Regions from separate parts of the Homo sapiens genome. Here region 2 is linked to region 1. A link means that fine-mapping ties the variant in region 1 to the expression of a gene that starts in the linked region. Tissue or cell type: whole blood. Region 1 holds a variant in brackets; the other region holds the start of a gene. All regions are shown on one strand. Distances are from middle to middle.

What was found. PIP is the estimated chance that this variant, and not a neighbour inherited with it, causes the effect.
Region 2: PMEPA1 starts here. The variant in region 1 is fine-mapped to the expression of PMEPA1 in whole blood (TOPMed, PIP above 0.99).

The regions. Positions count from the first base shown.
Region 1 is chr20:57,675,273-57,685,945 of GRCh38, forward strand. The region is part of intron 1 of PMEPA1 (prostate transmembrane protein, androgen induced 1); the gene reads right to left. Among named protein-coding and RNA genes, the nearest start is that of PMEPA1, 29 kb to the right of the region's middle. RefSeq lists enhancers at 1,505-2,088, 2,743-3,259, 3,260-3,775, 4,340-4,864, 4,865-5,388 and 5 more and a silencer at 6,603-6,766. The variant C/T (reference allele first, on the strand shown) is at 5,070.
Region 2 is chr20:57,706,121-57,716,793 of GRCh38, forward strand. PMEPA1 (prostate transmembrane protein, androgen induced 1) reads right to left here and starts at 3,895. Exons shown (of 4, transcript NM_020182.5): 1 at 3,354-3,895. The coding sequence starts at 3,462. It overlaps NKILA (NF-kappaB interacting lncRNA), which reads left to right and starts at 4,063. Exons shown (of 1, transcript NR_131157.1): 1 at 4,063-6,660. RefSeq lists enhancers at 2,277-2,888, 5,949-6,560, 8,940-9,468 and silencers at 3,727-4,156, 4,177-4,296.

The sequences.
Region 1 (10,673 bases):
AGTGGACAACAAACTCAAAACAAAGTACCCACCCCGAAAAGCAGCCTCCAGCAGCCCCGACCCCTCCACCGGCAGCCATGCCTTCACCTCCTCCGACCTCTTGGAAGCAGCAAAAGGCAAGGCCTGAGTCCGTCAGGAGCCCGACTGAGCTGGAAGGTCACTGCCATCATGACCCACGTGCCCCCCAACCATGCCAACTTGCTGACCCTAGCCTGGCGCTTGGCTCATCACCTTCATGTGGGGCTCAGAGGCCCAGGAAGACCCCTGGCCCACAGGCGGGGCATTCCTTGCTACGAGTGTTTTCCGGTTTGGGGGAGGAGGGTCTAGGAAATGCTGCTGGCCACACTGACAGTCGGCCCCTGAATGGATTGCCGGGCCCAGCGGCAGCTTGAGGAGGGAAGGAGCTCAGATGGGAAGGGCGACCTCGCTAGAGAGGGGGCTCCAGGGCAGCAAACGTGTCCAAGGGTGTCTGTGTGTCTGCCTCCCACCTTTGATTGTTTGGGGGTGTGTCCTTTCCTCTGGGGCATCTGTCTGTCTGTCTGTCTCCGGTGTGTGACTGTCTGGGGTCTAAATCCGTTGAGTCTTTCCCTGTGTCTCCATCTGTATGAGTCTCTTCCTCTTTCTTTTTCAGGCAACGTGAAAAACAGATTCCAAGAAGGAAGTTCTAAGCCTCCCAGACATCAGCCGCCTCTCCCTGTCCCCGCCCCACAGGCGAGGCTATTCCAGCCCTTGCTATCACTTCCTTTCGAAGCAGCATCTTCCAGAAGCAGAAAATCCCAAATTCTGGGAAGACGAGGTTCTGACCAACTGTTCTGCGAAGGCAGCAGGGGAAGCTTCCGGAGGTGTCTTTTCTCTGAGCGTCGAGATGGGGACACAGCAAAGCTGTGGAAGGCAGGGAGCCTGGCTCTGGATTCGAATCCAGATGCAGCCACCTGCTGTATGTGTGGTGTCTGTGGTGACCTGGCCCCTTGCCTCAGCTTCTTCACAGTAAGGCACGAATCAACAACAGTACCTGCCTCACAGGACTGCTTAAGGGTGAACTCAACAGGGACATAGGTACTAGCTCTCGGAACGCTAGCTGGTACACAGCAAGTGCATAATAAATGGTGATCATCATGACATGGCAAAGCAGGCATCATGACATGGCAAAGCATGCATGCTGACCGGGCAAGCATGGTGAATGCGTCAAGGATGTCAGGCGCACGTTTATTAACGATCTGGAGTGACTGATACTGAGCAGGTAAATTCAATTTATAGAATCACAACTGGTACGAAAAGAGGAAGAAAGAGAAATGGTGAGAAAACTCAAGAAACCAGAAACATCCATCAGAAGACAGACCTAGATGGGAGCTCACGGTCCAGCTGCAGAGGCTCAAGGGGCCGACTGGCTGGGGATCAGCTCTCCTGCCCTCGAGGGGCGGAGCTGTGGGAGAGCCACTGGGAGCTGGACCCCCCATGACGAGAGGCCTCCTTGCACTGCTGAGCACCCACACAGAGACCCTGTGGCCAAAGGAGGAGGAGAGAGAACCTTGGCGTTCATCCCTCAAGAGCAGAAGGTTTCTCCACGTGGCCTCCTTGTCTCCCTACTTCCTCTCTTGCAAACACACCCCCCGTCTATTCTCCACCCTGCAGCCGGAACAATCTTTAAAAAAAATCAAGTCTCTGACTTCCCACACTATGCTCAGGTTAAAACCCTGCGAGGCCCACCCCACCTCACCACTGCACTTCCCATCTCCTTCCTCGCTCACCATGCGCCAGCCAGCCTGGCCTTTCGCCTGCTCCCACCCCAAGGCCTTTGCACATGCAGTTTTGTCTGTGGGAAGACTTGCCCTGGGTCTGTCATCCCACATGTGCTCTCACCTCTTCTCTTACTCTGCATCGCCTGGTGGCCTGTCTTGGTCACGAGGGGCAGTGCAGAGTATGGTCAGGAGCATGGATTATTCTGGCTGTGGGAGCAGCTGTGTGTCTCCACTTCCTTGTCTGTACCATGGAGTGAACTATGGCCCCGTCTCATTGGGTTGTTTGAGGATCGTAAAGAACCCAGAAAGCACCTGGTGTGTAGGAAGCACTGAGTACGTGTTGGCTGCTATGAGAAACCATCTTCTTTCTAAGTGCTTGCTTGTTCATTGTCAAGTGCACCTCACCAGCAAGAAAGCGCCTCGATGACCCTTATTTACCCTGGCGCTGTATCCGTGAGGGCTAACACCACACCTGACACAAGAAGTGGCCCTCGATTAACATGTGAAAGAGGAAGGAATCTCTGCAAAATGTCCATTCCCCAGCACTCGCATCTTTCCACCAAAGCCAGAGACCAGAGGAGGGCATGGATGTGAATGGAAACTGAAGGGTCTTTCAAAAACTAAATCTGCAACTCCCATCCGACCCAGCAATTGCACTCCTGGGCATTTATCCCAGAGAAATGAAGACTTAATGTTCACACAAAAACCTGTGCATGAGTGTTCACGGCAGCTTTACTTTTCATAGCAAAAACAAACAAACAAACAAAAAAAACTGGAAGCAATCCAGATGTCCCTCAACAGGTGAATGGTTAAACTAACCATGGTGCATTCATACCTTGGAACACTACGCAGCAACAAGAAGGAATGAACTACTGACACCTACAGCAACGTGGAGACATCTTCAGAGAATTACGTTAAGTGAAAAAAGCCAATTTCAAAAGGCTAGATAGTGTATGACTCCATTTCTATAACATGCTTAAAATAACAATATTATAGAAATGGAGAAGAGATTAGTGGTTTCATGGGTAAGGGGGTGGATACAGTTAGAAAAGGGTAGAATGAGATGTTCTTGTGATGGGACTGTTGTGTCTTGACTGGTGGTTACACAAATCTACGCATACAATAAAACTGCATTGAACGAAACACACACACAGACACACACACTCGAATGAGTGTGTGTAAAACTGGGGAAAGGTAAGGTTGATGGTTTGTGACAAATGTCAACTGCTGGCTTTGGCACTGTACTACAGTTATGTAAGACGGTACCATTGGGGGAAGCTGGAGGATATCTACATAGAACCTCTCTGTATTATTTTTTACAACCGCATGCTAACAAACAATTGTCTCAAAATAAAAAGTTTTCTGAAAACAAGTGAACGGTCTGGGAGTGCCCTGTCCCTTGGCATCACCAGAATCGCCCTGGCAGAGGCTGAGGCCAGCAGCCTTAAGCGGTCCTTAGGGCCTGGCCCAGGCCTGGCACTGGGGGAGGGGGTTAGTTTCCTGCAAAGGGAGGGTAAGAGCCGAAACAGAAGCCGCTTCCCTCTCTCGCAGCCTCCCTCGCCTCCCGCTCACAGCATCTGCCATCTGGCTGCTGCAGCCACACGAAACCATCTCTCGGCTGTCATCTCTCCACTTGCAGGTCTGGCTCCCAGGTTTGAAGATTAAATTCTAAACACGTCATTTAAAATTTAGAAACGAGGAAAGGAGATTTTAAGTAATCTGGAAGCACTGGCTCCTATTGTCTGCCCCAAGTAATAAGCATGGAACCTCCAACCTCTGTCTTAAAGGTGACAAGAGCCAGGGGAGGGAGAGCAGCTTGGGATTCCCCGATGTAAAGTGTCACTGCCTCCCCAATACAATCAAATACTCCCAAAAGGATGTCCCAAACTACCACTGTACCCCCAAGAGAAAGCATCACTGTAAAGTATCAACATATTGTTCAGGAAGAACTGCGGACGTCTCTGCCAGTGAGCACTTCAGGCACAGAAGAGCCAGGAACTGCAGGGATCTCTGAACAACACGAGTGTTTTTGAAGAAGAGTCCTCCTCTGTCTTCTCCAGAACATGGAACAGAACTAGAGCAGGTTTGTGATAATGAGCACCTAGGAGCGGGGACCTCCTTAAATGATCTGGTTAGGGACAGCCTTTCGGAGGAGGTGGCTTTTCAGCAGAGACCTTAAATATGAGGAGAGTTGGGGAAAAAACACTCCTGGCCAAACAATGGCAAGTGCAAATGCCCTGAGGTAGGAAACCTTTGTCTCATTCAAGGGCAAGAAACCCTACCTCCTGGGGCATAGCATGAAGATACAATGAGGAGCTAGCTGCTTTGGGGCTTGGCAAAGCTGCACTGAGACTTCCTGCAGGTGGCCATGGGTGTGTATTGGGGCAAAGGCAGCATAGACAACGTGAACTTGAAACGATTCAGGTATCATTTTCCAGTGTGACTCTCCAAACACGGCACACATCAGACCTGCTGGGGAAGCTCCTTTCAGACAATGCGGGAGCCGTGTCCAACAGGCTGAAATTGACATCGTTCAGTGGCGGGTTCCGGGACCTGCAGGGAATGGACTTACAAGCGCCCGCTATGGATGAACAGATTCCAACCAGGCGCTCGCTTCCTTAGTGAAGGAACCACTTGTTCAATTATGAAGCCCAGGATGTGAAAGCAACTGCTGGAGCCACATAGGTGAATTTGTTATGCTGGAAGGGGGTGGTCACCTGGCACTGTGAGTGGCTCAGAGATCCCTAAGTGATCAGAATTGTAAACGACCCAGGGGAAAACCTTGGGAAAAAACTCACCCTCTTAGATACTGAGTTTCTAGGGGAGGAGAGTGGCTTAGAAGCCCCTAAAATGGGTCAGATGAGAAAAGGACAGGGCCAGAGAGGGGGAGGGAGTTGCCCAGAGACACAGAGCAACCGTGCAAAGCTGGCTAGAGCCAGAGCCTGCGCCTTCCAGTTCCTTGGGTACAGGCTGTCCACGCAGGCATCCCTGGTGGGAGTGAGGGTCACAATGGCTGTGACCTTGACCATCTTTGCAAGGTGAGCCTAGCTTGTGGCATGGAGTCTGGCTTGCACTGCAAGCCCCAGGGAACCGTCGGGGGATGAGTGGATGGTAAAAACGACTTCTGCCCGTCAGACACTCAGACACACCAGCGGGGAGAGCTGCAGCCACTCCAGCTTTAGCTGGGTTGTGCTAAGAGCTTTAAGTGCATTATATCATTCAAAGCTCCCAAGGAGCCGCTTTGGGGAGTCCCGTCAACACCCGCATTCTGCAGATGAAGGGACTGGGACCTCAAGGGCAGCTGCTAGGGCTAAGGTGTGGTTCTTCTAC[C/T]GGAGATGATTTTGCCCCAGGGGACATCTGGCCATATCTGGAAACACTTGTGGTTGCCACAACTGGGAGGGGGTGTTACTAGCATCCAGTGGGCGAGGGGAAGTAGCTAAACATCCACCCTGCCACGCACAGGGAAGTCCCCCACAGAAAAGAATTATTGAGCCCAAACGTCAGCACCAAGGTCGAGAAACTCTGGATTAAATCAGATGATAGTGAATATCTCAGGCACAGTGCCGGGTGCATAGTGCTTGCTCAATAAACATTAGCTAGGCAACAGCTGATTCCTAATTAGGCCTCAATGTGAAGACAGAAGCAGGGACTGAAACCACACACAACCGGTTTGAAGAATAACAACAACTTAGTCTAAAAACATCTGCTTTGAAAGCAAACGCTTAGGAAAGGGCAGTTGTTCATTTCACACTTGGATTGTACATTTCTGTAGGCTGGAGTCGCAACCACCTTGATCACCGATCAACGCACACTGGCACCAACCACCATGCCAGACACACAGGAGGCACTTCGTAAATGCTTGTGAAATGAATACATGGGTGAGGGAAAGTGGCGGAGAGCAGTCTGCGTGAGGACGTAAGCACAGGTCCTTCTCTGGAGGCAGGAGAATGAAAATCATCCCACGGGTCGGGGCCGGGTCAGTGAGGAAGGGAGGGAAGGAGTTCTGAGAATGTCAATCTGCAGGACAACTTCTAGTTTCCACCTTTTGCATGAGGGATTTCCAAGTGCCCCAGGGCCTGGGAGTCCCCATTCATCAACCCTGGGTGCTACCAGGGACAGGGCCCATTGTGATTTGTGAGGCCTGCCTGAGTGCTGGTGGGGCAGGGGTGAGGCAGGCGCCCATGCTCCTTCCTGACCTCTCCAGCACGCTCCATCCACTTGCATGGAATCACGGCAGTGGGGAATGAGAAACACCCCTCCATCACTGCCACTGGGAACCCCCGTCCCTCCAAACCTGCCGCCTGCCTGAGCTCCTGAGGGCACCCTCACCCTGCATGGGCCTCCTTCCTGCCAGGGAGGGAGCCCTGTGCGAGGCAACCAGGGGTTGCCCCGGAGCCAGTCCCACTTCTGCCATCTGCGGGTGACAGCGAGAGACCTCTCTAGGGTGTCCCCTGCCTGAGACGACCGTGAGGATGGTGTGGCGCTGCCTCTTACAAGGGTGGTCCCAGCATCAAGAAGGGAACGGCCCTCCCAGACCTTTCACTGCTTAAAATAACCAACTTTTTAATTTAGCAACCATTGTCGTTTCACGTTCAATTCTGTAAGCAATAATAGAGCTCTCCACGTACCCTCCACCTCCTCCCCTGCTGGCAGCACCTTACAAAACTCGATTCTCTGTGGTTTTCCCAGAATCAGAACTTGTGTACGCTTTAGTCACCCCCTCATTTTACAGAAGAAGGAACTGCAACCTGGTCAGTCCCCCCTCAAGGTGACACGGCCAGCTGGGAACTGGACATGGCCACCACACCTAGCTTAGCAGACCTCACCCTCTCGGCTTCTCCTCTCTGCCTGAGGTACTCCCCCCAAGGTCTTCCCACCGCTGACTCCTTCTCATCCCTCATTCTCAGCACAAGGTCAGCCCTGCTGAGAGACCCTCTCAGACCAATAAAGCAGCCCCCAGGCACAGTCATGTGACACTGTCGAATCTCCTCCTCCGTTCAGTATCTGACTCTGTTTCCCATCTGCACCAGACTAGTAGCTCCCTGAGGGCAGGCTCAGGCCTGTTCCATTCACCAGGTCCTCCCATCTCCAGTGGCACAGGGAAGGAGCTCACCTACTGGATAAATGAACAGAAGATGGGTGATTCGCCCAAATACCGGGTCTGTCCTCCTTCCTTAGGTCACTATTACACACAGACAGACACAGCTACCTTCGATGGGAGGTGACGGCGTAGCAAAGGCTCCCAGTGGGAATGAAGGCTTGAGCTGAGTGTGAATGGTGCTCAGAGCGGGGGACCAGCTCCACCAGCGGTTCCCTGTGTGACCTTGGGCAAGCTGTTCTCTGAGCCTCGGTGGTTTCATCCATAAAATGGGGAAATGACAGCCCGCTGCCCTTGCATACCTAAGCACAAAGTCACTGGTAACTAGGGGCCCAGGTTCTGGGTCTCCCTGGAGTGTCGGGGTCCTAGGCGCCGGCCCAGAGGAGTTTCAAAGTCAGCCTTTAACTGCCCTCCCAGTAAAGAGGCTGCTGAATGCTACAGAGCAGGCTCCCGTGCCCACCGCCCCACACCTGGAAGACGAAAGGACACGAGAAGGAGAGGCACAGCTGCGTCGCTGGCTGTGACCCACACTCCTCCAGTTTTTGATTTAAAAAAAATCCCTGAAACAGCACCCACTCCCTGTCAAGTCTGTGTCCCCATCGCCAGCAGAAACCAACTCCTCCTGGAGGAAGGAAAGTTCAATGGATGAGCTATAAATATTTCTGCTAGATGCTGCCTGGGAGCTGGGCTTTCTGCATGAGCAGGCCCCGCTGAAAAGGAAGGCGGCTCGCCAGATTTGTTTCGAATTATGAAAATAGATGTTGTCTCCCCACCACATCTGTTTTGCCTGACAAATGAGCAGCAGCTCGCCTCCTAAATAAGGCAGCACACCAAGACGGTCTTGAAACTCCGGCTTCTCCAACTCTTCAGAAAAGGAGAAGAAGAAGAAAAAAGAGTCCAAGCCTCCCAGGTTTGAGCTCTAAAAGCCAGACCTTTTTCAATGTCATCTCTCACGCCGCAGTCTCCGGGGGCATTTACGCCACACTTGTCCTTAAGCTCAGATCTCCCTGAGCAGGTAGAGGCTGCTCACGTTAGAGGGCACGGATATCCCCCACTGCTTTTTAAAAAGAAAAAGAAGGCCAGGAGACACGCGATCAATTATAAAAAGTGCAAAGAAAGGAAAGCTCCCTAAACTCAAGCCAAGGGTGCGTTTTTGATGTGCTGAGAGAGGCCAGTTTTTGGAGGGAAACATCAATACTGTTGCCATTCAGTTCTCTATGCCATGCTGGCCTGGTGACTTGGGTTAATATAATCATTTTCCTTTAATTACTCCAGGAAAGACCCAATTACAGCGCAGACGCATCTGCCAGCCTGAGGATCCAATATTTAATAGCCCATCCTTCAGGAACATTCCTGCTTGGGAGCTTCCTGGAGCGAGCAGCCCTGCATGCATTACGAACTTGCATTACTATACTAACTCGGTGGTGGTGTTCTGGCCTGTGTGCGTGTGTGTGTGTGTGTGTGTGTGTGTGTGTTTCTTTTAAAAGTCTCTTCCCCTGAAAATACTTCATGTTGATATTTCTTCTTAAAGATGCTGTAATTATGAGAGAGCAGAAAGAACCCCCGAATGACTGTATAACTTGAAATATTACAAGCACAGTCACCCCACTTCCCCACTCCGCGGGGAAATTTACAGGCTTCCAGGCTGCCACCAAGAGGGAAGGACTAGAGCCCAGCAGCTCTCAGAGTTCTTGGAGTTCTCGGCCTCCGAAGCACACTGTCCAGCCACCTGCACAAAGTCCATCATAAACCCATGCGGGGCACAATGGGAGTAGCTGCTCAACAGACCACTCCTGCCTGTGGGCTGTCTGTTTTGGGGGTAGAAATAAAAAGATCTGGCCAAGAAACCTGGAGTGTTATGGGATGTCCTTCTCTATCTCCTGCAGACGAAATGTCCCACCACGCCCCACCCCCGGCTCCGCAACACCGCAGTCAAGTAGGCTGATAGGTTAGACTCGCTTCATCTGGCAGAAATGAGACGCAGTTTAGGGATCCCAGGAGACATCTGGTCAGCTGCCCACGCCTGACTCCCCCTCCCCAGCTTTTGTGCCCCCTACCAAGTAAAAACCGGAGGGCAGATTGATGACTGCGGGAGGGGAGGCGGGTGGAAATTTATGGCTTTGCAGCAGGTCAATGGTAATGACAATAGTTTTCACGGGTGGGGGTCGGGGAGTTAGGGGTCTAGCTGGGAGGGGGGCAGGGTGACTTCTCTCCACCCCGCAGCCCTCGCTCCAGAAGGGAACTCGGAAGCCTGCTTCCCTCCTGACCTGAACATGTAGCGGGCCTGGAAGTCAACTGAATTTCCCAAGTCCACTGGGCTGTGTAGCTGCCTAAGAAGGAGGGGGGCTCTGAGAACCGCCCCCACCACCCACTGCAGAGTCTGAAGGAGCCAAAGTGGGACCACTTTCTGGTTGCTGGCAGGACGATGCCTATTTGGCCTCTGCACCGGTTCCTGTTGGGCGGGTGATGGGTGATTGGGGGGCCCGGGAGACCCTCCACCCCCATAGCTTGCCAGTTTTTCACTGCGGTAACAATGACCTAGTCGCTATGGCAATGAGGTTAATTAATGCATCTATTTGGCAGAACTAAAACCTCGGACGCATTCAACTAGCCCTGATATTTTCATCCTTAAGAAGCCAACCTCTGGTGTTTTATTTGTCTAGGCATGTAGGCATGCCACAAAACAAAACATTGCCACAAAAGGAGGAGCTGTAAGAAGAAATGGGGGAAGTTGTGGGGAGGAGCTGGGAGGGGGGGGTCTCTGCCCACCCCTCAGAGAGAAGAAAACCTGGAATGTCACTTTTCCTTTTTCGATGATGGTATAAAATTAGCACAGTCAAGTAAATGTGTTATAAACACAAAGATGCTGCCAGGAGGCAAAGTGCCTTCATTTAAGGAGAGGAAGAATGGCTGAGGGGTTTTAGAAAGGGGGCTGGGTGGTCAAACGGTTGGAGGGGGTGCCGTCTGCAACCCTCCCAAGTACTGTAACCAGAGGGAAAAGCCATTTCCCCCGAGAACGTGCATCTGCAGAACGTCTAGACAGTCATAAAGAGGACAATTAAAAAAAGAAAAAAGCTGCAAGCCGCAGTCACTCTCCTCGCCAGGGTACCCACCCGGCTGCAACCTCCAGCTAACTGCCCGAGCAGGTGAAAAATTATAAAAGCAAGAAAAGCCAGTGTGGGCTAGGAGGAGGCCGGGGAGTCTGGGCCGAAAACAGTTTATGAGCAAGTGTTTTGAAATCCCGCTTTAAATAAGCCGGTAAATGAATTCAACCTTGTCAGATCTCTCTCCCCTCACGCAGACCAAATATTCCGCTGGCGTGCTGTCTAGACACAGATAACAAAGGACTTTTTACAGCGCACAGAGACGCGCTGACAAAGTAGCCATTTAAAGATGCAGTATTGCTTTCTCGGCCTAAAACGATTTGTCAGATGGACTTAAATGAAAATGCTAAGTTATCGGTCTGGTTTGGGGTCTGCTGGTGGACTGGCTGGGGGGAGGGGGCTGGCTGCTCCAGAGAACTAGAAACCATCATCTGTGATTGGGCTGCCCTCCAGGTCGCTCTTAAAATAGGACTGTACGTGGCCGCCCAGCAAATAATTCTGGCTCTTCTTGTTCTGGGAAGGCGCCTGCTAAGATGTCTCTAACACCTAGTAGCAGCAATTTTGTTGTAGCACTGTTCACTTAAAGGGGGCGTGTGGCAAAAAAAGGTTACATGAAAATGCATGGGGGAGAACTTGTTTCCACCTGCTCCGGGTGGACCAGAACCAAGAGGAGAGGAATCTGGTCTCACCTCCAACTTTGCATTTTAGCCCTTCTCATACAAAGGGTCACTA
Region 2 (10,673 bases), 31 kb after region 1:
ACCGTAGATACCACCAGAGATGGGCCCAGGGCAGGGGCACCTCCCAGAACTCTCAGGAAACGCCTCCCGCGTGAGCAGACACCGGGTGGCCCCAGGTTCAGTCTTTCCCGAGAGCGAACTTAGCATCCATCTGGGCCCCAGAAGTTTGAGGCAATAACCAGAGGAGAAAGACCGGGGGTAATCTCTGAGACGCAGCAGAACTGAAATGAGGTAGATGAGGTTGCCAGGAAAACCAGGTGCCAGGAGTCCTTTCCTCAAAAGTAGCCGCTTCAAGCTCCAGGCTGACATCTGCAAGGCTGTCACTCGTGCTGCCTGCTTTTAATCCCAGGACCCTTGGCTTTTTAAAAGAAAGGGTTTTCCCACGGGTATGTTTTGGGAACACTGAATTCCCACCAGACAGCAGCCTCATCCCTCGACTCTCAGAAAAAATGGGGCCCCAGGAGTGTCCTGTTACAGTCAAGCCCACTCCATTCAGCATCCTGAGAGCAGACGTGGCTCCCGGCGTACAAAGGGGCTCTGACAATTTCCCCCAGCCCCCAATTTCAAGGAGGACCTGCTCTGGGGCCCAAGTACCAAATTCAAGAGGTGTGGGCGTGCAGTCCAAGAGAAACCACCCTGGCCTGGGGCTGGTGTGGGTTTTGGACCTCGGGCAAAACTTTCCACGGTGGACTTTCCTCATCTGTAAGTCAGGGATGTGAACCCCGAGCTTGCGTAGGCTCCTCTCAGGTCTGAAATTTGGGGTAGCTGAAGACCACACAGGGGAACCAGCAGTGGGTGGGAAGCCCGGTCCAGCCTGAAGACCTCCAGCCAGGCTCAGCAGGGGAGAGGCCCTATCTTGAAAGACTATAGAATTCTAGATTTCATCCATCACGGCCTCATTCTTCAGATGAAGACAGTGAGGCCCATCATGGCTTAAGGACCTAGCAAGGTCAATTTCCTTCTGCCAAAAGAAGGTATCTTACAGGATAGGAGCCACTTGGACACTGCCTCAAAGCCCAACTCCAAACCATCCATCAAGTTCTCGTTGCAAACAACTCCCAGCATGTACTAGATGAAAAACAGCAGCCACTACTAGTTAAAAGAAAAACCAAATACTAGCTTTTTTCCTTTCTTTTTTCCTTCCCTCCTTCCTTCCTATCTTTTGGTGTAAAGAAACTCCAGGAGACACCAGGCCTTACCACTTCCTCACCCTAGTCTCTCGGGGAAATCTGATGAAAACAAACTGTTACAGTATACCTGCATTTTAAAGACTGGTTGGTTCCCTCCGTGCCTTGCAGCTTTCTTCCAATAAGTAGGGGGCTGTGTATACACAGAACACAGGACTAACTGGGGCACCCAGGGGCCAGCTGGAACAGGCTAGGGTTCCAGGTATTAACCCCAAGGGTCCCAATCACTCAAAGGCTGCTGGCGGCGGCGGGGCAAAGTGCAGAGGGCGGCGGCAAGGCATTTAACAAGAGGCCTTGATGTCAGGTCAAAAACATCATGGACTGATGAGCCTAAGAAAGGACAGAAATAAGAACAATGCTTTTTTTTTTTTTTTTTAAGTCCTGAACCATAAAGAGAGACAAGAGCAAAATGATGCACTGTGCCCAGCCCTTGGAATAAGGGTGACACAAGGATGTGTGCCCCTCGAGCAGGAGGTCCTCAAGGCAGCTTTACAGAGCGAAAGGCAAAAAGTGAGGCAAGGAGGGCACTGAAGCAGCAATCCATCTAAGGCAAGACTCTCCAAACGTGTGCGAACGTATTTTAATAACATTCTCGTGCATTTCATTAGCCTCCTGAGTTCACAAAGGGCCTCTGGGAAGGCAAGTCGGTTCCGCAAACGCTGGCTCTGGGCAGGTCCTCCTGGCACCTCGCTAGTCTGGCACAGGCCAGCTAAGGTGGGGTAGGGGGAGAGCTTTCCATTCCAGGCTGGGAGGGAGTGTGGAGAGGTGGATGGATGGAAGGACCCACCACCAAAGCCCGGCCAGCCTGGTTATTTTTACCACTTGAAGCTCACTGTATAGGCTCAGGGGCCACAAACTGGCAGCCGCCTGCGGACACTTGCTTATGAGCCGCCCAGACACTGCCTTCATTCCACAGCGGCTGCTTCTCAGCTCCGGGCCCCAGCTAGGGGCAGCCTGGCCCCCAGCAGGGAAGGACTGTGTGCCCCTTCACCTGGCGTGCTTCTTCAGGGTGGGGATGGGGAAACTAAAGCTCAGGGAAGCAAAAGGTCCCCGAAAAGGTGGGCTGGGGGACAAGGTGTAGGCTAGAAGCTAGAAGCCAGAACCCGGGAGGTAGTGGTTCAATTCTCCACTCAACCAAATGTCCACCTAGGTGGGCTGTGTGTGCAGGAGGTAGAGACTTACTTATCTGAACTTTTGGGTGCCCAGGCGGCTGCGTTAGCGACAAGGTTCAAAACCCCACTCCCCACCGTTGGTCCACTGATCCCTTATTTAGGGCCAGGCAGTCCCAAACACAAACAGCCCCAAACTTTGACTCCTTTGTAACCATGGTCTCAGCCAGACTGAACCAAGCTGTCCAGACAGAGGCTATTTATAGGTGCGTCGGGGACACAGACACTGGCACAATGACACACACACATTCAAGATCCACGCTGGGCCAGACGGGCCAGAGCTGAGCCCTGGATTCAGACACCTGGACACACACGGTCCCCAGATCCGGCCCAACCAGACCAGACCCCCAGAAAGATGGACACGCTCAAGAAAGGCACCCCGGCCCGGACACGGGAAAGACACACAGAGAGAGGCAGGAAGACTCGGTGACACGCACTCTTGGGCAAGACCGCGACTCAGACCCCCAGACACCCCGAGAGACGCCGAAGACCCAGACAGAGCCACGCAGCCACGCACACTCCACAGACGCACGGACATCCACTCAGAGCCCGAGACACAGCGCCGCGAACACTCCAGACACACGCCCGGAGCCCCAGACACCTCGCAGACCAGACAGTGTCTCACACGCCCCTCCACCCCCGCCCAAAGTTGATAAAGAGCCGGCCTAAATGCTCCATCGCGACTGCCCTCAGGGAAATAAAATGGAAACTTCACGGATCCGCCCGCCCCAACCCTCCCGCGCCGTGCGCCGCCGCTGAGCCCCGGGTCCGAGTCCGGGCGGGCGGGGCGCGGACAGCGGGGGCCGTGCCAGGCTCGCAGCGCCGCGGGACAAAGCCGGGCCGGCCGCCAGCTGCCGCGAGCCGGGAGGGCGCGCCCGGGGCGCGGCGGGCGCTGCCCGGGCGCAGGGCGTTCGGTCCGAGGGGGCGCGCAGGGCCCGGACCCCCGCTCGCAGCTGTGCCCCGACATAGGGTCCGAGCCCGATGGAGTCTCCGGGGAGGGGGGCGTGGGGTCACTCACTGATCTCCATGCTCTGGAACAAAGAGCGTTTGCAGTTGCACGTGCAGGAGACATTGGGCTGCCCGGCGGCGGCGGCGGCGGTGCTGTTGACCCCCATCAAGCGGTGCATGGACGGCGCGGCGGCGCGGCGCGGGGCGCGGGGGGCTCGGGGGCGGCCGGGGGGGGCTCCGGCCGGCGCCCGGAGCTGGGGCCCCGCATGCAGGAGGCGCGCGGCGGGGGAGGCGCGCCCCGGCTCGCCGGGCTCGGGTCGCCGCCAAGTTCCCGGGGCGCCGCGGGGCTCAGTGCGCGGGACCGCGCTCCGCTGCGCCCCCCCGGCCTCCCCTCGGCAGCCCCGGGGGCGTCGGCAGTGCCCGCGGGTGGCGTCCGGAAAATGGGCTGGCAGCGGGGCGCGCGCTGCCGCCGGGGCTGAGCCTCTGCCGCTAGCTTTCCCCAGCCGAGCGCCTCCGCCGCCGCCGCCGCCGCCGCCTCCTCCTCCTCATTCAAGTCCAAGGAGATCGGGTTTCGCTCCGAGACCGCGGTCGGAGGCAGGCAGACGGTCTGACGTCAGCGCTAGACGGGGCTGCCGGTTCCCACCGCGCGGGGGCCGGGGAGGGGGCGCGCGCTGCGCCAATCCCCGCCGAGGTTCCCCCGCACCCCCTCCCCGAGCCGGGGGGCGGGGTGACGGGAAACGGGGCGGGCTCTTAAAGGGCCAGAGCTAGGCGGCCCACGTAGACCCGGCACCCGCGCAACGGAGGAGGGGCGCTGTGCCCTCTCCCCAACGGCGGTCAGCTTGGAACGCCTGCCCGGCGCACGCCCGGGGCCGGGGAGCCGAACTCGGTGCCAGCCGCACCCGGGCGGGTTGCTGGTGCGCCCTCCCCTCGCCCCCGTCCCTGGGGTCCTTGACCCAGGCTCTTGGGGCTAGCCTATCTTCTGAGGAGCACAAGGTCCCTGGGGGCTCAGGGAAGAGAAATTGGAGAAAGGGGGAGGAAGCCCCCAAGATGGATCACCCATTGCCTGGTTTCGCAGGAGACTGTCCGCCTTCAGTTCTCCAGCAGCTCGGGGATCATGGCCCACTGAACCCCCAAGCGCTTTCACCCGAACCCAAGGAGGACGACCAGGAAAGACGGGAACTCGCGTAGACACGCCCGGAAGCCCTTGTCATGTAAATAGCTGTCGGGGACTGGTGTATTGTCGCCGCCCCAGCCGGCGGGACCTGGGGCGAATCCACACCCATTGTCTGCTGCCCAAGGGGCCTCCGGCTGGGGGGCGCGGCTGCGGAGTTCAAAAGGGGTATGAGCAGGAGGGGTGTACTTTTAGTTCATTAAGTTTTAATTACAGGAGTGCTACAAGAACACATTCTTCAGGTTTAAAAAGATATTAAAATATTACATAAGAGACCTCCCCTCCCTGGCCCACCTCCAGCCTCTTAAAAATTTAGTGTGTCGCCTTTTAGACACTTTCTCAAAGCTTCACTTATTTAACAGGCACTTAAGGAGCACCTACCTGTGCCAGAAACTCTCCAAATATTAACTCAACCTGACACCGACTCAGTGTGGCCGAATATTACTCTCCCCATTTTACAGAGCGGGCAGCTGGTCAAGGAAGTCGCTTGTTGAAAGTCACACAGTGGTGGAGCCTGTGTGCCAACCCAGGACCCTGGGGAGCTGCCTCCCCCTCTCCCACGTAGTCCTGATTCTTTAAGTGTCCACATATTCCTGTAATGCCTGGAGTTTCAGTAATTAGCAGGGACTTAGTGTGTTCAGAGAAAAAAAAAGCTTTTAAAAATTATTGTTACTGTGTTTGTAACAGTTTGGATAGAGAAGGAAAAGCTGGAATTTGGGAAGTGAAGGTGGCCTCGGGGTAGAACTTACCTAGACCAGAGCGAATTCATCCTGAAGAACTCAGAGAAAGCCGGTGCAGGAAGTGGGTTCCCGCTCTCCCTGCACAGGCACAGTGATGCTGCCAGAGCTCTCCCAGAAAGACCAGGAGGCTTGTTCTGGAGAAGTCAAGCCCAGGGATGTGGCTCAGGCTGGTCCAAGCTCTTTGGAGGAGTCCAAGCGTGCCCAGCCCAGAGGGAGGTTCAGAGGCACTGACCGTCTTCTGTTTGGGAGGAGAAGCTCACTCTTGGAGCCACAGCCAGCACTAGGTCAGGACCCAGGCCCCGGCCCAGGAGTGGGGCAATACCCAGCGTCTACCCCAGATGGCACCCTGCTGTGAACTGGGCGCCCTCAGCCCCTGCCTTGAGGAAGGGGCAATACCACCAGCGTGTCTTTTATCAGGGAAGATATTGCTGCAGTTTGGCCGCTGCAACTTAAGAGAAAAGCTAAGGGGTCCCCCAGCATCCCTTGGGGTGCCACTGCAAATACTGGCTGGGCCTGGAGATGACCTGGGTCCCATTCACTTCCTAGGGTGAAGGAGGTCATCATTACCACCCCTGCTTTCAGCCATTTCTTCATTCATTCAATCAACAAACTGGCTGAGCTGCAACCCTGAGCCGGGGAATTCAGCCACTCCAGACACAGCCCCTGCCCTCCGGGAAGTCTCGGGAGACCTGGCTAGTCTGGCTGGGAGAAGTCACACGTTGATTGTCTTGGAAGTGAGATGGCATTTACACAATGGAGGCTGCACTGCCAGCAGGCAAAAATAACCAGTTAATTCAGTGGCTTAAAGAAACCAAACCTACCCACAACGCTTGACCTCCCATTGATCCATCTGCGACACCGGCAGTGGCTACCATTTATTGAGTGCTGATGGTGTCACCTGGGATTGACTTAGTGGTCTCTGGCGCTAGTTCCGAAGTTGATTCTGTCTGGAGAGCTTAATGCAGTGTTCAGACCTCAGGGTCCGAACCTGAGGGTCACCCAAAGATGAGTGGGACATAGCTGTGTGACCTCGGCTGAGTGCTTTCACCTCTCCAACCTCAGTTTCCTCTTCTGCAAAATGGGGTGGCTTCATGGCACCTTCACGTGGTGTGATTGCGAGGAATGAAGGGATCGATGCCTTGCAAGTAGAGGAGAAGGGGCCGGATACATCTTAGTTGTTATGTTATTTAATCATCTTGGCAACCCCGGGAGGGAGGAACCACTATCATTTTATTTTCCATTTTGCAGTTGAGGACAATGATGATTCCAGCACAGACAGGGCCCCTGACGGGGCAGTAGGAAAGGAGAATTGCTTTGGAAGGAGCATAGGCTGGACTGCCAGCACTCATAGGAGGCTTCGTGTGTGCCCAGGACTGCGAGAATTAAATACAGGACACCCAGTTCAGTTTGAATTTCAGATAAACTATGAATAATGATTAGTGTAAGTATATCTCAATTTAACTGGATAGCTTGTATTTTTCTTTGCGAAATCTGATAACCCTAGATGTGCCAGGGACTGTGATGCTGGCATTTTGGGCATGAAGGGCAGAGCCCACTGTCAGGCACAGGCAGAGAAGGTCACAACTCCCTGATTCTACCCAGGAGAAATGGGCAGAGCCAAGGTGTTAATGGGCTGAGGAGGGAGGGCTCACTGCTGGGAGTGGGAGTGGGGAGGGGGCACCGCGATTGGGCAGGCCTGAGTCCCTGGGAAGAATGCCACAAGTCAGAGGCAAAAAAAAAAAGGTTTTGTTCACTCATTGAACAAACATTCTGCTCCTATTCAGTGTGAAGCTCTGTGCTGGGTATGGGGCACAGGGCTGGGAAGAAAACCAACTCCCTGACCTCGTGTGACATTGTGGGGGACAAAGGGACTAAAGACACACACACACATGCAAACTCATAGCTCAATGAGGTCAGGAGGTCATTTCAGACATGGTGATAACAGGCCAAAGGCCAGAGTTGGGGTGAGATCAAGGAAGCCCTCCCTGAGGAGGTGGCATCTCATTCCACCTGCAGTTACCAACCACCCACAGGTGCAGCCCCAGCCATACTGAGGCTCACAGGTGAGGCTGACATCACATGTGTAAAAAGATGAGTCCAGGTGATAATTTCAGAGAGGGACGAGACCTGGGAAGAATATAAAAGGAGAGGGTTTGGAGGCGACTTGAGCCCAAAGGGTTGGGCCTCCTCTCTGGGGAGATGTGGGCTGGGCATGTAGGGGACAGTAGAGAGGGGATGCCAGGCCAGTGGGGGCATCAGGAACTGGGAGACTCTCATGGTCCCAGCAGGTTTGGAGTTTGGGACACATTTCTCAGCCTGGCTGTGGCCATGGGGTTGTGAAATGGGTGTGTGAAGCAAATGGATTGTGAAATGGGTGACTGCAGAGACAGGCCTTTCTGGGACTCCAGACAGCGTGTGCCACCATCCGCCCTGCCCATGGGTTGAATCCGCGGCCGGGGGGATTTTCCAGAGGAAACGTCCTGTTTCAGCAGGTTAAGGGGCTTTGCTCCCAGCAGCGCCGCGCATCTGTGCTCTGCTGGACTTGTGTGCAGAGCCAGCTTCGTGGGAGTGTGACCCCCCTGCACTCTCCAGGGCCCCATGCTCTGAAGGGTCGGGGGTTTATTGTATTATTTTATTTATTTATTTTTTAGTTTAATTTTTTCTACTGTTGACATCGTGAAATTCCTAATAGTTAACAGTTTCTGAACACGGGGGCCTGCAAATCTGTAACCAGTCCTGCTCAGATGCCAGGCCCACACTGGCAGCCAGTTGGGACCCCATGGAAGTCAGTGTGGGTTTTGGCCACAGCTGAGGGTGGCTGGCAGTGTTCTGACTGTGCCCGCTGGCCGAGGGTGGCTGGCCACTGTGGAAAGTGCCTGACTGAGCCAACAAAAGTCCTGCTTGGGGAGCCGGTTGAGGGGACAAGGCAGAGGCCCTCCTCAGGGCCAGCCGTGCCCCTGTCTGCCTGCCACCCCCGGCCTGCCTGGACGGAGCTGCCTCTGCAGAATTAGTCTTGGGAAACCTTAGGCAGATTAATGACCTCCCCTCCCAACTTAGCACCTTTGGAAACACCGTCCAGCAGGGTCATTTTCTTCCTCAGGTTGGGGTTAATTGGGGCTGTCAACTTTCACAGGTTAGCAACTTTGGATTTCATTTTTTTTGTCTTGTTTTACTTTTAAACACTAGTAAGAGCCAATGTTTATTGGGCACTGCCCATGTGCCATGCCAGGCCCTGTTCTAACCACTTCACATTCTTCCACTTAGTCATTCCACAAATATGCATTGGGATCCTACGGAGAGCCAGAAATGAGCTCACTGGATCCCCACGACAACCCTCTGAGGTCCAAGCTGATATTATTCCCATTTGACAGATGGGGACACTGAGGCTCAGGGACCCAAGGATGAGGTGGAGCTGGGATGTGAATCAGGTACTTGGGCCCTAAAGCCCATGGGCTGGCCTCAGCAAATGATGCCTTCTGCACCCTGTCTCCCTCCTCACTGCCTTTGACTGGGTCCTCCCTGGCCGTCCCACTGGACTCGGTTGGCACTGTGCCCCTGGCCGTCCCACTGGACTCGGTTGGCACCGTCCCCCTGGCCGTCCCACTGGACTTGGTTGGCGCCGTCCCCCTGGCCGTCCCACTGGACTCGGTTGGCGCCGTCCCCCTCAGCTCCACGGAGGCCCCCGGGGATCCACCATTTGCCTCACCGCTGGTGGTGTCTGTTCATAAAACCTCATCTCCGACCATGAGGGGCAGCTGACTCTGCAGCGGAGTGAGGCTGGAGCGGCTGGGTTGGTGAGAGGCCACTCCAGCACCTGCTCTGGGTCTGGCGTGGGCAGCCTTGGCAGGCTGCTTCAGCTCACTGAACCTGCGTCCCCTCTGCCACTAAACAGGGAGGAGCGGGATTTCACAGTGAGGGAGAGGCAGTGTGGGGAGGCCTCAGCACAGGGCCCAGCGGCCCCTGGACTCGGTGTCTGTGAGTTCACCATCCCCTCCACTGCTCCAGGGGGCAGGCCAGTCTGGCATGCCTTGCTTGGGGTCTGGCCTGCAGTGGGTGCTTGGCAAACCTCTGTGGACTAAATGCAGGAGGGACACCTACCCACAAACACATCCAAATCCCATTTTTGGCTGCCTTCATGACTGGCTAACAAGTCTTCCCGCTCACTCACCCTCTCCACCTCCAAGTATCCTCTTGCAGCTGAGTATCCAGAAGCCAGTCACCTGGGCTAGCACCTACCAAGAAGAGCAAGGAGCGTTTGCATGGTATCAACCAGAACCAGAAGTCTCAGCCAGAAAGACGTGTTGTGCATGTGTGGTCTCCACTGTGAGCTTGTGGGTGTGCGTTGCATGTATATGCAGGACGTACATGTGCATATTCACGCTGTGGGGTATTTGTGTGTGTGTGGTGTGTGTCGTCTGTGTTGAGGGTTTGAGGGTGCACGTTGTATTGTACATATGTTTGGGGTACGCATGTGAGTATTTGTGCTATGAGGGTATGTGTGTGTTGTGCGTGCATCTGCATGTGTTCTCGCATTTTCTTGGTTGTGTTGTGTGTGTTTAGGCGCTGATACAGGAGCTTCGCTGCTGTACAAATATACAGGAGCTTTGCTGCTGGACAAATGTCAGATGGTTGAGTTCTCCAACAGCAATCCAAAGATGCTCGGCTAAATTGGCCACAGATGACACCCCCACCTCCATCCCGGGGTGCCATCCCATTCTCTTCTGTCCAATTTTTCAATTCCAGCAGGGAACTGAATTCTTCCCGAGAAGAGAGGGCTTTGGAAGCCAGGCAGGGAGACAAGGGTGGGCAGAAGGAGAGGACAGAAGGGAACATTAGAGCCAATTTTGTCTTCTGACAGATGGGTAAACTGAGGCCCAGAGAGGGCCATGACTTGGAGAAGATTCAAGGTGCCAGTGAAAGGCAGAGCTGAGCTAGGATCCATTCAGTGCCTGACAGCAGCCCAGGCCCTGCAGGGTCTTTGGTTACCTTAAATAGCTTAATACACAGACTTTTCTACCACAGGTTGAGCTTGAGAGGGGAATGGAAGATTCCAGATGTTTAACTCATGTCTGAAACACTTTCAGAAAGAACTATGAGTCACTCAAGCTGATTTCACGGACCAGAAATACCCAACCAAAAGTGTTCTGCGTCTCTCTTGTCATGAATGACACATTGTACTGTTATTAGGAGTAATTAATAATATAAAACTGTGCTTCTCAATGACACCAGAGCGATTTAGGGGAGGCTGGCCCTTGGTGTTCTGCTGCTGGGTTTGAGGGGAAGCAGGTAGAGTGGTCTGGGTGTGACAGCAAAGGCCATGCTGATCACAGAGGACTCGGACATGACCGTGTCTGCCAGGCTCTGTGCAGTGCTAATGCCAGGCACCACACCTGGCACAGAGACAATTCCACACCTCGTGCCAGGTGCTGCAACAAGCCGTGGGGCTGCACAGTGACTAGCGCAGGCCAGCTCTGCCTCC